Linked DNA regions of Homo sapiens. Each later gene encodes a partner of the first gene's protein in a complex. Links are inferred from orthologs where the notes say so. Each region holds a gene or a part of one and is shown on either strand. Other genes may lie near its edges.

The links.
Region 2: the proteins of INSC (region 1) and GPSM2 are in contact, whole or in part, in a crystal structure (PDB 3RO3), measured with the Mus musculus proteins. The link is inferred for Homo sapiens from one-to-one orthologs. Residues at the interface, in XP_006507722.1 of Mus musculus: Val72, Asp73, Ser74, Val75, Arg77, Trp78, Met79, Asp81, Leu82, Lys83, Leu84, Met85, Thr86, Glu87; in NP_083798.2 of Mus musculus: Asn210, Tyr213, Leu214, Phe218, Arg242, Ser246, Asn247, Asn250, Ile253, Phe254, Tyr265, Gln283, Tyr286, Ser287, Asn290, Thr291, Thr293, Leu294, Arg323, Trp326, Ser327, Asn330.

The regions. Positions count from the first base shown.
Region 1 is NC_000011.10:15,172,446-15,181,551, forward strand, and holds part of INSC (protein inscuteable homolog), read left to right. Parts: intron 1-3,295; coding exon 3,296-3,641; intron 3,642-4,665; coding exon 4,666-4,718; intron 4,719-5,878; coding exon 5,879-6,002; intron 6,003-9,106. UniProt on the Homo sapiens protein: May function as an adapter linking the Par3 complex to the GPSM1/GPSM2 complex. Involved in spindle orientation during mitosis. May regulate cell proliferation and differentiation in the developing nervous system.
Region 2 is NC_000001.11:108,878,481-108,887,586, forward strand, and holds part of GPSM2 (G-protein-signaling modulator 2), read left to right. Parts: intron 1-3,995; exon of another isoform or gene 3,996-4,145; intron 4,146-6,794; 5' UTR 6,795-7,042; coding exon 7,043-7,098; intron 7,099-9,106. UniProt on the Homo sapiens protein: Plays an important role in mitotic spindle pole organization via its interaction with NUMA1. Required for cortical dynein-dynactin complex recruitment during metaphase. Plays a role in metaphase spindle orientation.

The DNA.
Region 1 (9,106 bases):
CACTGGCAATAAGCCAGGCACAAGAGACTGTTCCTCACAGGACTTGGGGAGTTCAGGCACACACACCAATTGCAGTAGAATGTTACTAGTGCCCCACTGAAGGATGCAGAGGCCCTGAGGGGGAACTCATGAGCTCTGGCTGTAGTTTTTTAGAGGAGGTAATATAAGAGTCAGGTCTTGCAGGGTGAGTAGAAACTTGCCAGGTAGAGAAGAAGAAAAGAGGTTTCTAATCTGAGGGAGAACTTCATGTTCAAGGCTGCAGAGGATTGTGAAAGAGAGTGGTATGTTCGGGAAATGGGGAGGTTGAATTTATCTGAGGTGTAGAGTGTGTTTGTGGCAGGGGCGCTAGGAGTTGGGGAAGATGGACAAGGGAGATGTGTGAGAAGGGAGGCTGGGGCCATATCACGGAAGCTCTCTCATCTTAGCCTCAGGAGTTTTGACTTATCCAGGGAACGGTGGTATGGGGGGCGCAACTGAAGGATTTAAGCAGGGGAGAAACATATTTTAATATCTATGTAGAAAGCCCTAATACATTCTTGGGGGAATGTGAAGCATTGGGGTTTTTGAAAGTCAGTGTGGCAACATCTATTGAATTACAATTCAGAACATATGAATGAGAGTGTTGAATGTTGCATTGTTTATAGAGGTCAGGAGCTGAACAAAAAGTGAATGCCCAGGAATGGGAAAATGGCTTAATAAGTTGTGGAATATACGCAATATGGAATAGTGTTCAAACATTGGAAAGAGTGTTTTAGGATTCTGCTGGAGGACTTGAAAGATTTCAAAGTTAAGTAAGAAGATCAAAATGCAGCAAGATGTGTATATACTATGGTCATATTTACAAAAAAAGCAATAGGTCAGAAAACCTTATAAATGTATATATACTTAGATAAAAGTCTGTGTAAGAATGCATGAGTATGGAGAAAAATATAAAATGATACTTACTAGGTTAAAGTTAGTTGGCTGAGATTGGAAGGGGTGGGCAAATATAAGGGAATGGTAATAAGATGCAGAAGATTAGAAGTTGTCTGCAATCAAACCGTACATGAGATGTGATTCTACTTAATATAAAATTAAATATGATTTCATAAGGATATATGGGCAGTAGGGTGCTGTGATTTTTGGATTTAATGGGTTTCTCTCTCTCTCTGTGTGTCTGTATACATATACATATATGTATGTGTTCACATACATATGCATGTATATGTATATGTTCAAATTCTTTACAAAATGTAATAGCTATTTCCATGAAGGGAGGCAGAGACAGAGAAATCATTGGTTATTTTTTAAAAACAATTTAAAAAGCAATTTCCTAAAAGAAATCATATGTTCAATTTCATAATTAAACATAAGATGTGTGGTTAAAAATTACATTTAAAAGCCTACAGTCAAATGGTTACATATTTCAGAAAGTCTTGCTCCTTCTCATTAAATAACTGTAAACATGAAGACATGATTTTTTAACCTCGATAACTGGAGTCTGCCTTATAATTTCAACCCTACTTGGTACCTTTGCTTCACCAGGCTGGCCTCATTGGTGCCCTTTATTTGCTATACTGACTCAGAATAAAAGCCAAATCTCCACCTTGTCCAACACAGCCCCATAGGATCTACTCCCCTCACCCCCACCTCATTGCTCTCAACTCATCTTCCACCTTGGCTGACTATTCCCATGCTACTCTGGCCTCCTTGCTATTCCTTGCACATCTCAGGACACTTCTGCCCCCAGAGCCTTTGCACTTGCTGATCTCTCTCCTTGGAGCAATTTGCCCTCAGATAGCCACATGGCATCCTTCGTCGTGTGCTTCAAGTCTTTGCTCAAGTGTCTCTTTCTCAATGAGTCTCCTCTGATCCTCTTATTTTAAATTGTGAGGTCTACTCCCCCACCCACCCCTAGCACTCTCTAGTCTTTTTTTCTGTTCTCTTTTCCTTCCTAGCATTTGCTACTTGCAACATATTACATACATTGCTCATTTATTTTGAAAATTGACTGTTCTCTCACTTGAATGTAACATTGGCTAGAGAAGTGATTATTTGTTTGCTGCTACAGTCTAGGTCTTAGAACAATACTTGACATGTTGTAGGTACTGATATTTGTAGATGAGTGAATGAGCTGGTGGCAGGTGAAGAATGTTTGAGGCAGGTAAGATCAGCGGCAGAAAGACTAATCAGAATACTGTTACAAGCCAAAGACAAAGGAACTTGCACTCAGCCTTAGTCATTAGCTATGCATGTCTTCTGTTGTGAAATGATAGTGAAATTTGTTATTGTCTTTTTAGTTTAGTTTTGTTTTCAAGCTTTACTTTTAATTGACACATAACAATTGTCTTTTAACTTCTCATTAGTTTATCTTGATTCTTTAGGCAGATCAAAATCTTTTCGAGAGTGGAGGCTTAACATCTTCATATCTGCTTTTCCCACAGTGCCTGGCACTTATATGAAATATAAGGGACTCAACAAATATACAATGCTTTATCAATGATCTGATATTACTGACTTTTACTTGACTCAGTGAATTTTAGAGTGCATTTTATTTGATTAAGATCTTAGGAACTAATCTATGTTCTCATGCTGTTGTACTAAATATAGTTAATTTTGTTCCATTACAAAAGTAATATACATGCTCACTATAGAAAATTTGGAAACTAGAGAAAAGCTGAAAAAAATGAAAAAGACTTTAGTTACATTACTCCTTAAGAGCCTTTAGCATTGTAATGTGTTTCCTTTAAATATTTTTCCTAGATGGAGCTTTCTAACATTATTGTAATAATTGTGTGTTTACATTTCCATTTTTGCATATTAGCACACACATTTTTCTTAGCTATAAACTTTTGGAAAGCATCATTTTAAATAATTGCGTACTACATAATCATAGCTATACCATAGCTCACTTAGTGTAACCATTATTTGATATTTAGGCTATTTCCATTAACTTTTTTTAAAGAGATGGGATCTTGCTATGTTGCCCAGGCTGGTCTTGAACTCCTGGCCTCAAGCAATATTCCTGCCTCACCCTTCCATTTCCCCCTTATTGTAAAGATCATTGGCTACTCTGTCAGACATAATTACCTGTTGCTTGTTAGTCTGGTCATCTGCCCTTAAAACTTTATGCTTCAGACTTCTTATCCATAAGATGAAGAGAATGAGAAATGACTGAGAATATCAAGGTGCATGAATGGGAGAAACACTGCTAAACATATAATAGGTGCTTAGTAAATATCAGATGGCCTAGAATTGAGACCTTTGGAAATCATGGGGTGTTGATAATTATCGTGGTGCTGTTTCCTGGTTGCAGGCTACACCTGATGCAGGTGGACTCAGTCCAGCGCTGGATGGAAGATCTGAAGCTCATGACCGAGTGCGAGTGCATGTGTGTCCTGCAGGCCAAGCCCATCAGCCTGGAAGAGGATGCACAGGGTGACCTCATCCTGGCAGGTGGCCCTGGCCCTGGAGACCCCCTGCAGCTGCTGCTCAAACGGGGTTGGGTCATTAGCACAGAGCTGCGCAGGATCGGGCAGAAGCTGGCCCAGGACCGCTGGGCACGGGTGCACAGCATGAGCGTGCGTCTGACCTGCCATGCCCGCTCCATGGTCAGCGAGTACAGTGCTGTCAGCAGGAACTCCTTGAAGGAAATGGGCGAGGTCAGCTGCCCTGGGATAGGAGTGGGCGGGAACTGGAAGTCAGGGTGCTTTAGAGAAGAGTGGGTTTGAATCATGTGGTGTCTGAATCTTTTTTGCTCCAGAAGCCTTTCTCCCCTTCCAGTAAAGGAGGAAAGAAAGAGAGTGGAATCTTTACTGAGTGCCTACTATGTGGTGGACATTGTGCTAGGTGTTTTTTTTTTACATGTATCTCATTTAACCTGCACAACCTGTGAGGTAGGTGCCACTACTTTGAGAAGCTGTGCAGTGGTTGAATATATTGACTTTAATGCCAGACTGCTTGGGTTGAAATGTTAGCTCTGCTATGTGGACCTCAGCAAGTTACTTAACTTCTCTGTGTCCCAGTTCCTTCATCCTAAAAGGTATAATAATATAATTTATTTTATAAATTTGTTGTGAGGACTAGATGAATTGTTATATGCAAAACACTTAAAGCAATTGATTAAAAATGTTAGGATTACCTTTATTTTATAGATGAGGAAACAAAAGTTCTAAGAGGCCAAATAATTTATTTAAAGTTACGCAGTGAATGGTGTAATAAGTAGGGTCCAATCTAAGCTTTTCTGAGTCCACAGCCCATGACTTTGAATCTTCTTCTCAAAGCCCAAGGTGAACCATTAAAAATCTCCCTTGTTATTAATTCTCTTTCATCATTCTCATTTCACATTAGTGCTTTGCCCTTTGCCTCGAACTTTTCCTTCCTTAGCTTTGCAGACATTAAAACTTCTCTTCATTCTTCAAAACCCAGCTCAAATGCCCCTTCTTTCCTGAAGCTTCCCAGCTTCCTCAGCATAAATAACTGCTCAGTTTCATTTTCTTATACTCCCAAAGCAGCCTACCGTGAGCTCTTTCACCACCTGTATCACACTGTGTTATATTTTAACTGCCTGTTCCCCAAGTCACATTAATTGATTCTTCATGTTTAATGTCCCCGTGTGCTCAGCACAGCAGTTGGTCCTCAGTTAATGCTTACTGAGTTGAATAAAATGGACTTATTTTTCTACAGATTGAGAAGCTGCTAATGGAGAAATGCTCGGAGCTCTCGGCAGTCACAGAGAGGTAAATTTGGACCATAGATCTCCCAGGGTCTGCCCACCCGACCTCTGGCAGGAGAAGGGGCTGGTATCTTCTCCCAGAGGGAGAATGGGAATGGGAGGCGTGGTGGTGGTTTCAGAGTTTCCTTTTTCTGACTTTTATCAGAAATCTTAAAATATTCTCTTGAAATTTTCTGCCCCATGTTCAGGCCCTAGGGATAGGGTAAAAGGCAGAGGAGAGGCCTGGGCATAGGAAGAAAGAGGATTTTCTAGGAGTTGGTAACAAGGAAAAGGTTTCCCACAGCTTTGGGAAGACCCACAGATCCCCAAAGTCAAGGCAAGAGTCAAGGCAAGGTGAAAGCCGACACTCACACCCTTACACACGCACATACACATAGACTTCAATGCCCACACTCACTTTCTCATATACAGATATATAAACACATGCTTGGACCAGCACAGAAATACATTCACACCCTTTCCTCCATATTTCACACACATAAACCTACATATGTTTATACTCAGATATGTACACACACTCAGCCTCACATGTATACACACCCAGGTGTGTGTTGACTTTTTCCTTCACCCTTCCCAGAGCCTGTGTCCTGAAGATAAAACCTGAGCTCCCTGAGGTCTTTTGCTTTCCTGGGTAGAACACTGTCAGGCCACAGGAGTAAATTGGAACCTGATCCCCCTCTGTTTTTCTTGTCTGGGAAGAAAATTCTCAAGGCTCTCTGCACACTCTAGGCAGCCATTTCTTAAAGGGCCACAGGCATTGCTATCCACCTTTTCAGAGCTCACTAGCAATACCTGGCACTTGGCACCTCTCTTTGAAGCTTCTTGCCCCTTCATCTCCCACCCCAACATCACAGAGAAGATAGACCCTGGCTGCAATGATGGCAGATTCTGCAGGGAGAAGCCCAGAGGTATAGATTTTCCACATTCTGATGGCCTTTCTTCCTGTTGATGTGGACTGGTAGTCCTCATCTCAGGCCAGCACATCTCTGCACACTAAGAGACCAGTGGGCAAGCCAGCTGTGGAATATTCCATCTCTGACTCCCAGTTGCCAATGTCTTCAGCACACACCAGGCTTGTAGCAGGTCCAGTTCTGGCCCGTGCAACATTTCTGGGCTGACCACATGCCCTTTCCAGTGGCCCACCCCATGGTTTCTTCTCTTCAGGTGCCTTCAGGTTGAGAATGAGCATGTCCTGAAGTCAATGAAGGCCTGCGTGAGTGAGACCCTGAGCATGCTGGGCCAGCACTTTGGTCAGCTGCTGGAGCTGGCCCTGACACGGGAGGTTCAGGTCAGTGCAGGCTGGGCTGCAGGGAGGGGTGCTTGTGTGGACCCTTGGAGGAAAGGAGAGAAAGAGGGGCTGAGCCAGGCTTGGGGAAGCTACTGATGTGGACTTTATTGGGAAACATCTTACTCAAACCACCAAAGTCAACTCCAGCATTTGTGAAACAAAACTGTCAGAGCTGGGCTGAGGCTTCCTGAGCACCTAACCCAACTCTGCATTTTCCAGATGTGAAAACTGGAGCCCAGAGTGGGGAGAAACTTATCCAAGGTCACACAGCAAGATGGTGGCAGAGCCCAGCATCTCCCAATTCTACTTTCATTATTACTCCCACCCTTCCCAGAGCCTGTGTCCTGAAGATAAAACCTGAGCTCCCTGAGGTCTTTTGCTTTCCTGGGTAGAACACTGTCAGGCCACAGGAGTAAATTGGAACCTGATCCCCCTCTTCTCTGTTGAGTTAATGTTCACAGTTTACCCGATGGGTCCTTACTATCCTGAAAGAATTGAGGCACCTGCAGGGAATAAGCTAATTCTAGAAATCCTGACAACAGAGAAGAATCTAGAAAGATCATATAGTCTAGCCCCTGCCTCTAGGCAGGCTTGTGCTTGATTCCAGAAAGAGGGAGGGATTTGGAGCCTGGCCTATCTACTTTCTATCTGTGGTTCACCATGGAGCCTCAGTTAAGTTCCTGAACCTCTCTCAGCCTCGTTTTCCTCCTCTATAAATTGGTAAACCTTCTCCAGAAGAAAAGTGAGAGGACTAAGCAAAGGCATATGGAAGGTGTTTAGCACATAGTGTGGGTTAAATACATGTTATTTCCCTCCCTTACCCTTTGCTATTTTAAAAACCTCCCAGTAAAGCAGATTCCATAAGGTTTTCATTATGAAAGGTATTTATGGTTATTTATAGTTACAGAAATATTGTGTTACATATTTGCCATTCTTTTCCCACCACCAAATAAAAGCCTACCACAAATAACAAATCTCTTTCCATGTCGGCTCCTCTCCAAATTCAGCCTCTCTGCCGAGCCCAGGGTTTGCTTTCTCTCCTTCCTGAGTGTTTGGTTGGTTTGGTGCAGGCCCTTCTGGCTTGACTGACATGCTGGTCCTGCCTCACCCCCACTCCTCCCACAGGCCCCCATGTCAGTGCAGCAGGTCCTGGGTATTATCACCCCCGACCCCAACAACAGGAAGGTCCTCAAGGGCCACTCTCCATGTCTTGACAGGGACAAAGGGAAGGAAGGGCCACAGGCTGGGGTGCTGGGGCAGCACTTGGAGCTGATGAGCCAGTGCTGACAATCACATGCAGGGGCAGGTGGTGATCAACCATCAAGTCCAGAGGGACCCAAGGGACACAAGGACCAAAATGGACAAAAAAGTCGAGGGACTGATGAGCAAGAAATATTGGAGTTAGTGGTGGAGAGGGAGACCTGGAGCAACTTCTGAGCAGGGGTACAGGTGCTGGCTGTTGCTTTTTATGCCATTTTTGTGACCACTTTCCTGAAAGTGCCAGGTTCAATTAAAAGGGCTGAAAATGGCTGGACGCAGTGGCTCACGCCTGTAATTCCAGCACTTTGGGAGGCCAAGGCGGGCAGATCACGAGGTCAGGAGATCGAAACCATCCTGGCTAACGTGGTGAAACCCCATCTGTACTGAAAATGCAAAAAAAATAAGCCGGGCATGGTGGCGAGCACCTGTAGTCCCAGCTACTCAGGAGGCTGAGGCAGGAGAATGGTGTGAACCTGGGAGGCGGAGCTTGCAGTGAGGGGAGATCGCGCCACTGCACTCCAGCCTGGGCAACAGAGTGAGACTCCGTCTCAAAAAAAACAAACAAAACAAAACAAACAAACAAACAAACAAAAAGGGCTGAAAAAGAGGTGTTAAACTGTGAGTGAAAGCCAGCTGGGTTTGGAATTAGTCATCAGTGCTTTCTATGAGGCAGCAAAGAGGCAGGGTATCTTTGATGCTTTAGGTCAGAAGAGCCTGGGAAAATCTCCCTGGGCTTGCTTGGAGCCTACTTCCCTGGCCTTTGGGCTGTATAGTTGAATCCATTCTGCTATTTCTTCATTCTGATCATATTCAGGGTGAAATTCCTGATCTGGTGCTCCTACTTCCCCAGCTGTTCCCTGCTCTATTGCCAGGTCTGACCACCTGGTTCATTGATGCCTGGCCTGGAAGCTGAGTAGACCAGCTCCTGCCCTGTTAGAGTGGGTTCCTTATTGGCCTCCCTCTCATGGTAGGAGTGAGGGGGGGGGCGGGGGGGGGTGGTGGCCACAGAGTGTTGTCCTCCATTCATCTGCATATTAGTTTTCTTCCTGATAACCCCCATTCCTGGTGCTTTCCCCCTTCCCTGCCAGCAAGTCCCATGATTTCCTCCATGCCCTTTTAAGGGCTGAGCTTACCATGCTCATAATATATTTTTGGCTGATCTTTGGCTTCTTTTTATATTAGAAAGTTTCCATACAGGGCAGCAGTGACATCAGGAGATATATTGACTGAAGACAGGGTAACTTGTGTTCAGTGTTGTAAGCATGTGTTTCTTAAACTAGTGACTCAAATATTGTTCCTTAGGATGTTAGTAATTATACCAGGATCTTACATTTGTGCCGTCTTGATGTAAATGAAATCAAATCTATTTCTTTACATCAAAATTTGTCTTATGATGTGCCGGTCTGCTTTGCAAATCTTCCAAAAGGTCCTCAAGCACTTATAGTATTTCTTGTCTGACCTGCAGCTTCCATAGGCAGGGGTTTTGGTTTGTTTTGCTCGTGCATATATCTCTAGTGACTAGAACAGTATCTGGCATAGAATGTTAAGCAACATATTCCAAACTTTCAGGGTCACAGATTTAAAAATATTATTAAAGCACCTATTTACTTCTTCTGAGATGCTGGTGTTTTAGGAAATGCAATTCGAGAAACATTCTTTTAGCACTAAGAAGTCGTGTGGGCTCTTGAGCAGAGGAACAAATCTCCCCACCCCCTTCACCCCAGTATTAAGGGCTTTTTGGACTCCTTCAATTATGGTTGGAAAGAATGGTACAAACTGAGAAGTCCTGAAGGAACCTCCCATTGTTGTACAGACAGCCTGGACTAAAGCTGCTGAAAGAAACC
Region 2 (9,106 bases), on another chromosome or scaffold:
CAGATATTCGGTGTTACAAACATATTTTAATATAGATCTGAGACTTGCTTACTAGACTAATTAAAACAGTGATAAGATATAGTAGTTTTAAAAATGACCTTTTCATAAACATAAAATATTTCTAAGATCTATCTTTAGAAATTTGTAATTAGTTCTCTGGAATTTTAAAATGGAAAATCTGACATAGATTTAGGTTATTCTAAATTTATTTGAATATATATTAAATATGTCTATTTTATAATAACAGTTACTGTTATTACTACAGCACTATGTTGAGTACTTTTGTTATGTATCAGAGCCAGGTGCTGGGTCAGGTGCTTTATAAATCATGTCTGTAATTATCACAGCACATTTTAGGTAAGTGTCATTATGCCCACACCAACTGAGAGTTTAGCGTAAGATCATATAACTAATAAGTCACTGTGCCGAGATTCAAATCATGGCCTGATCCCAAAGCACATGCTGTATTGCTTCTGTGTGTCTGTTTAAATCTCTGCTGTGTCTCTGGATTCCATTTGTAGGGACAAGTTCTACTTTAAAGATGCCTTTAGGTGCTGTGTTTTGTTGTAGCTTCGCAGAAATATTTCAATCTTTCTGTTGGAACTATCTTGCTTCATTATTTTATAAATCATCTTATAAATCACATTATATTTTCAATATCTTCTTAATCATCTTTATACAAAACATAAGTGAAGAGTAAGACTTTTCTGAGTTTCTTACATAAATATGAATAGAATCTTTACTGTGGAGAAGAAATGTATTACAGTCCGGTTTTCTCACTATTGTAGGATTCTTTGGCCTCGTCATAATTCCTGTCTTCTTCCCAGGGAAGAAATTAAAGTTTGTTGGGCCTCTCTTATGTGCAAAGCAATGTCGTTGGTGTTGTGAGATGACAAGAAAATGCTTCCTATTCAGTAGTTGTTTCTGGAGTTTTTGTAGTATTTTTCTTTTCTCCCCATTCCTGCCTTATATGTTGCTGCTGGTTTATCTTCCTAGCAGAGATCCAACTTGGCTATTCCTTTGTGGGGAAAAAATACCAGCAAGGTTCCCCATTGTGTAAATAAAAGGCTGAGGCCGGGTACGGTGGCTCACGCCTGTAATCCCAGCACTTTGGGAGGCCGAGGTGGGCGGATCACGAGGTCAGGAGTTCAACACCAGCCTGACCAACGTGGTGAAACCCCGTCTGTACTAAAAATACAATAGTTAGCCCAGTGTGGTGGCACACGCCTGTAATCCAAGCTACTCAGGAGGCTGAGGCAGGGAGGCGGAGGTTGCAGTGAGCCGAGATCGCGCCACTGCACTCCAGCCCGGGTGACAGATCAAGACTCCATCTCAAAAAAAAAGGGGGGGCTGAATATGAATATATGCTTCTGCCACATGTTCAGAGTCCCTCACAGTTTGTTACTGTTCTACCTTCTCAGCCTTCTCTTTCACTACTCTGAATACTGTGTGCTTATCCTGGAACACATTCTGTGCATTTCTACCCTCCCTTTTTCTTGAGCCATTCTTTTCCCTTGACTGGAATGCCTTTCCTTCATTTGGCTAATAAGATCTACCCATCCTTCAAGGTGCTGTACAAAATTCCTTGCTTCCAAAAAGTTTTCCCTGGTCCTTTTCAGTTAGAATTATTATTCCCATATTATCACAAAACATTATTGAATAGAAACATTTATTTTCCCACAGAATGGTGATAACTTTTGGGAAGAGAAGACAAAATCATGTTTAATATATTTTCCTATGGAGAATTCTAAACTCAAACTCTCTAGGGACCCTTTCTAAGCATTTATAATATTTCTGCATTTGGGATTTATTTCTGCTTTAAAATGTGTTTGGGTCAGGTGCAGTGGCTCACACCTGTAATCCCAGCACTTTGAGGGGCCCAGGTGGGCGGATCACTTGAGACCAGGAGTCGAGACCAGCCTGCCCAACATGGCGAAACCCTGTCTCTGATAAAAATACAAAAATTAGCCAGGCGTGGTGCTGGGCACCTGTGGGAGGCTGAGAGAGGAGAATCACTTGAACCCAGGACGTGGAGGTTACAGTGAGCCAAGATGGCGCCACTGCACTCCAGCCTGGGCGACAGAGTGAGACTCCGTCTCAAAAAAAAAAAAAACAATGCTTAGTGGAAAGGACCATTTCTTTTCTATTTCACTATTGAGCTTTAAAATTATGTATATGTATTAATTGATTGAAGCTGATGACTGGACCATCGTTGGTAATAATAAATGGCTATGCTTACCAAAAAGGTTTATATATAGTTCAGATGATCTAACCTGGTGGCAAGAAAAGTAAATTATATTTATTGTCTGATGAATGTTACCAGTTTGTGTAGATCCATGGATGGAAGAAACAGACCAAAAACAAACAAAGAAACAGACCAAAAGTTATTGGCATTTAAGTGGCAGTCAGGATCAGATAGTTTAGATAAATTCGAAGAAGCACAAAATGTAACCTGGTTTGCAAACTTTTTACTGCCAGTGGAGTAAAGCAGGGCTAGGATTTCTTTGATAAAGAGCTAGCCTTTCTTGTCTGCTCTGATTGCATACCTTGGACAGTGCCTGGAAGTCCACCTAGCTGTCTAAAGGGAGTCTGTCTATTTTGACTTCCTAATCAGATAATTAAATGTGAGGCAGTTAGAGTTATGTACTAGTTGATCTTTCTATATGTCTCTGTCAATTCCCGGGATATGGAAAAAATGATTGCCTTTTCTTTATGGTTAGATGCCGTGATCTAGCAATTTTGTTAATTTTGAGGTTTTTGGAGCATTGCTTGGAAGATGCTATTAAGAGACAGATTTGTTCCTTGCAGATTGTTAGTTGTAAATAGTAGTGGAGGTTGGAGGTTGAACTTGATGACTTCTCAATATCCTTTCAAACCTACAAATTATTTTCCAGTTCTTCGTCCTGTGATTAAATTTTCTTATCCTAATGATCAAATTTGTAATTTAATATTTGTTGCAAATTTTACTAGTCTTACACTATATACACACACATTGTATCTAGGAAGTAGGTTTGTTAACTCCATGTAATGAGGAACATGAGTGAACACATTATTGCTAAATTGGCTAGAGAGTTCTTAAAACATGAATCATGAATCAAGAATTGCTTGTTTGTTCAGTGAATATTTTTTTGTGTGAAGTGCTACCTAATTGTTATGGAGATTGTAATGTAAGAGGCACTTTTAAAGATATTCTTCCCTTGAGAATAGTAAGACTATATTATAAATTGCTCTTATTGAAATAGTGAATAGCATTCTGTCTTCTTGCTTATTTTAATGGTCTTAGAAATGGTTCTTTCTACATGCAGTTTTCATCAAGTAAAATATTTTGCAACTTTATTTATATTCATTTACTTATTCGTTAATTTGTGAAACATGTAAATGCTACATGTTTACATCTTAAGGAGTATGAAATTAACATTTTATAATTGCAAAATTTAGAATTTCATTAAGAACTCATGGATGAGAACAATATTTTGTTTTATTTTTTTAGAGACAGGGTCTCACTCTGTGGCCCAGACTGGAGTGCAGTGGTGCAATCATCGATTACTATAACCTCCAACTCCTGGGCTCAAGCAATCCTCCTGCCTCATCCTCCCAAGTAGCTGGGGCTATAGTCACAGGCCACCACACCTGGCTGATTTTTCAATTTTTTGTAGAAACGGGGTCTTGTACGTTGCCTGGGCTGGTCTTGAACTGTTGGTCTCAAGTGATCCTTCCACCTTGGTCTCCCAAAGCACTGGGATTACAGATGTCAGCCACCGGGCCTACCTAAGAAAAATATTTAAATTTAATATCAGTATCTGTGGGGAATTGGTTCCAGGACCCCCTGAGGATACCAAAATCCATGGATGCTCAAGTTCCTTATATAACATGGTATAGTATTTGCATATAACCTATACGCATCTTCCCACAAACTTTTAATCCTCTCTAGATTATTTATGATACCTAATACGATGTAAATGCTATGTAAATAGTTGTTATATGGTATTGTTTAGGGAACAATGCCAAGGAAAAAAGTCTACATGTTCAGTAGAGACACAACTTTTCATTTTCTTTCCTGAATATTTTTGATACGCGGTTGGTTGAATCCACTATGCAGAACCCACAGATCTGGAGGACCTACTATAATTTAATTTAATTCTAAGGTAAGTTAATTCTAATACCTCTCTTTCTGCTCCATTTTATAAATAACAGCCCAAACCTCATAGTGGATAACGGGAGATAATATCATTGCCAGTTTAGCTGTTTGTGTAATCTAGACGCCTTTGGAGCTATTGCAATGAGTATCCACACTAATTCCCTTTATTAATTTTTTTATTAAGGAAAAAAGAGGCACAGTGGAATTCTGAACAAAAGGAAAAGAGATTTGATGTGTTGATAGCTGCTATTTGATGTGTTGATAGCTGCTACCTTTTTGTTCTTTCTTAAAATACTGCTCCCTAGCCCGTGCTGTGGCATGCACCTGTAGTCCCAGCTACTTGGGAGGTTGAAGCGAGAGGATCACCAAGAGTTCCAGGCTGCAGTGTGCTATGATTGTGATGTGAATAGCCACTGTACTCCAACCTGGGCAACATAGCAAGATCCCATCTCTAAAAAAACAAAACAACAACAAAAGATAGTGCTTCCTTTGTTGGCCAAGGGAAGAGATAAGAGGAGTACTATTTTGTGTTTCTTGCAGGCTAAACTTGTTATTAATGTGAAAACCTCATTTCCTCTTGGAAACTTCATCAGTATTCCCAAGGCTGTTTCTTTCTACCTTCCCTCCTTTCACCTTCTGCTCTGTTCCCTATTAACTTCTAGCTGTACTTAATTAACAGAGCAGTGAGTATTCATTAGTCTGGTTTATGATATAGCTGAAATACTTAAAAGGATGTTATATAGAAGAGGAATTAGGCTTTATTGTATATGGCAGCAGAAGGAAGAAGTAGAACAAATGGGTAGAAATGGAAGAATTGCTCAAAGTATGGAACGATTTTCTTACAGGAATATTCAAAATTAAGATTAGCTGCTTTATGACCTATGTAGGAATGCTATAGTAAGATAGTGGACTAACTGACCTCTAGGATTGTTTATAACACTGAGATTCCAGGACTTTATGATTGTATATCTACCAATTTATCTCATATATGTATATGTATATCCTTCTTTGTCTTTCTCAACTGTTATCTCAGAGGTTATAGTTTATGTCTGATATGCTGTAGCTCTCTCTAATGTATCGGTATGGATTCATTTTTATTTAAATATTCTCAGTCTTTATCACTGAAGATTTTACCTTTATTCCTCTCTTTTTCTTTCTCACCCTCCTATTAGATATATTATAGAGCTGCTCATTTTGTCCTCCTTTTCTCTGAACTTCTCTTTATTATTTTTCATCTGCTTATTCTTTCTTTAGCTGCTTAACTAGTACATTGAGGGTTTGTTGTTGTTGTTGTTGTTGTTTTGGTGGGGGCAGACAGAGTTGCACTGTGTCGCCTGGGCTGGAGCGCAGTGGCATAATCTTGGCTCACTGCAACCTCCGCCTCCCGGGTTCAGGCTCACTGCAACCTCCACCTCCCGGGTTCAAGTGATTCTCATGCCTCAGCCTCCTGAGTAGCTGGGATTACAGGCTTGCATCACCACACCTGGCTAACTTTTGTATTTTTAGTAGAGACAGGGTTTCACCGTGTTGGCTAGGCTGGTCTTGAACTCCTGGCCTCAAGTGATCACCTGTGTCTGCCTCCCAAAGTGCTGGGATTACAGGCATGAGCCATTGCACCTGGCCCTAACTAGTACATTGAGTTATTAATATCAGTGTTCATGGTAGTTTTTTGTTTCATTTTGTTTTGGGGCAGGGTCTTGCTCTGTCAACCAGGCTGGAGTGCAGTGGCATGAATATTAATACTGTTAGTAACAGCAATCCAAAAAACTATAATCCAAATGTCCATCAACAGCAGAATGAAAAATACATTTGGTATACAATGGAATATACATGCAAGTTGTAGCTATGCACAACAATTGAGAAAAATCTCAGAAACAACGTTCAGCAAAATCATATAAAACTAAATGGTATCTTATTTAGGACTATACTGACATTCGTGTTAAAGTTGTAAAGACAAGCAAAGGAATAAGGAACAAAATACAGTTTAGAAATCACCTTAGAGGGAAAAGGAAGGAGATGGGTTAGGTTGGACTACCCAGGAGACTTTAAAGGCAGGTAATGTTCTTATTTTAGACTGAATGGTGTTATATAAATGTTTGTTGTGTCATTCTTTTTACCATATACATATTTCCCAAATGTCTTTTGTACCTACCCAATATTAATAAAAAACATTTTAAAGACCTTAAAGAGTTTAAGTAGAATATATTTTGAAAGCAAATGAATCCAACTATAACCGAAGTATCAGTGTGATATCTTCTTTGAAGAAATAAATTTACTGAGTTTGGAGTTGACTATTTCAAATAATTATTGAATTTTCATTTGATTTGTTAATAGTAGTTTTTAAAAGTTTGAAGCAGCAATTTTGTTTTTAGATGCTAATATGATACATACTGTTCTTTTTTGTTTATAGCAGAAAATATTACATAAAAGTATTAAATTTCAAACATATTTTAAAAATTACAGTTCTCAAATCTCATCTATTCCCACCCCTATTTAGAAGCTCCATGATGACAGTTAAGCCCTGTGCTATCTTCTGTATTGATTGACATGACAGCAGTCTGCAGAGTTAGCTTGTGATTATGTACAGCTCAGGGTTACTGTAGGTTGTTCTTTGAAAATAGGACTTCAAGCAAAGCATCTTGTATTCCTTTTGCAGAAATGTTGCTGAAGTGCTGCTGAAAGGGCCAGAGATGCAAGGATTTGGGATACATTTTGAACCTTTAAGCTGTCTGACATTGACCTCCTTTCATTATTAATAAAGAAGAATCAGGAGCTTAGGATGTATTAACACCAACTCATTAATATACTAACCGGACAATGTTCTACAAACAATTCTACATTGTAAAGGACTGGATTGGCACAAAATAAAATAATTTTATTTTATTCAGCTTATAATATGACTCGATGGAGGAAAATTTGATAAGCATGAGAGAAGACCATTCTTTTCATGTTCGTTACAGGTAAGACTATTGCTGTCTTAATGGATGACTTTTAATCCTTATTTTAAAGTGTTTTTAACTCTGATGACCATTTCAAGTTTCAGTTGAAAATACTCAAATATACCAGCCATAGTATTGTCTGTAGACAATATTTTCTTTTTGTTGTAAGTTTTCCTTTCTGTAAGAAAATGATAGTAGAGACCAATTATGTACTATGGTTTGTTTAATGTTCTCTGGAAGAGTTTATGAATAATTTCTTTATAATTTGTAACTTTTTATGTAATGCAAATATGTAAATGAAATATGTTTGAAAATCTTTGGGGCTAAAAGGTGGATTTTTTAAAAATGTGGTCAGCTGAAGGACCAAACCTTTGCATTGTAATTTAATGTGATCTTTTAGACATGAACTTTTTATTTTTGATTTATTTTTATTTTTTGTAGTGTATTGTTTTGATTCCCTTCTCATTTCCTTTTTTTGTATATTTTTTATTTTATTAATTTTACTTTTTCTATATTATCAGAGATGGGAGTCTCACTATATTGCCCAGGCAAGTCTCAAACTCCTGGGCTCAAGCAATCCTCCTGCCTCAGCCTCCAGAGTAGCAGGAACTACAGGTGTGTGCCACTGCACCTGGCTTTTTATTTTATCTTTAAAGGAAATTTTATTTCACAACCATTATTACTGTTTTAAATATGTACCTAATCCACATTAATATAAATACATTATTATTAAAATACAAACAAGCGCTGTTCAAAAGAAATGTCATTTTTAAGCTTAATGTCTAGTGACATTTTGTGTTGTTTTGCTGATTTAATACTTAAGACCACATTTTTACATGAAGTAGTGGTTTGGTAATCCCTAATTTACTCCAGAAAGCAAGTCAGGCTGAGGAAAGGCACCCACATGCATTCTCTCACAAGCTTCACGGTCCCTAGGGAAATGGCCTGGCTCCTCTAGGACTTACAGTGTTCCCTTGGATGCCCAAATGGATTGTCTACATTCCTGGTAGAAGGTTGCAGATTGTAAGGACCAGTGTTCCCACCTTTGTTCTGCATCCACAAGTGTCTTTCACAAATACAACACACTCCCTTTGGCTACACCTTATATATAATAGGTTATGCACATGTATGTGTGTTGGTGGGGGTGGATGCTTCCCACTGATCTAGATCAGGATCCAAATCAGACATACACATCAGGAAAGGAGGGAAGATAGCCAGGAAGTGATAGCTGGGCAGAATGAAGGTACAGAATGGGCAGGTCTTCCTGATTTTTCAGAAGAGCCCAGGAAATCTGAAAATCTGAAGAGTGTGTGTGTGTGTGTTTTTGTGTTTTTGTTTTTTTTTTTTTGGAGACAGTCTCACTCTGACGCCCAGGCTGGAGTGCAGTGGCACGAGTTTGGCTCACTGTAACCTCCGCCTCCCATGTTAAAGCGATTCTCTTGTCTCAGCTTCCCGAGTAGCTGGGATTATAGGCGTGTGTCACCACGCCCAGCTAATTTTTTGTATTTTTAGTAGATACAGGGTTTTGCCATATTGACCAGGCTGGTCTTGAGCTCCTGGCCTCAAGTGATATGCCCGCCTTGGCCTCCCAAAGTGCTGGGATTATAGGCATGAGCCACCAAGCCCGGCCGGAAATCTAAATCTTTATTGTGCTGTCTCCAAATTCTGAAATGTTGGCAGCTAATGCAAATTTTTTTTTAAAAATGTGGGTTGAACATTTTAAGGAGGAGAAAGAGGCCTGTAACAGACACAACTCTCTAAAAAACCACACAGGCAGGTGGGGGAGGTAGAGCTCAAGGTTTTGAGAAAGCTGCTCTCCAGGACGTAACATACACTTACCCTGGGACTCCGAGGCGCTAACCCTCCTGCACCTCGAGGCCCAGAGCACCAAGTGCGATGTCCCCATCTCCTGGCCTTGCCCACCTCATTGCCCTCCATATCTCCTCATCACACCTTCGATTCCCCAAACCCCATAGGTTTCTCTGCCTCCCAGACTTTGCCCCTTATTCCTTGGATGGCCTAGAATGCC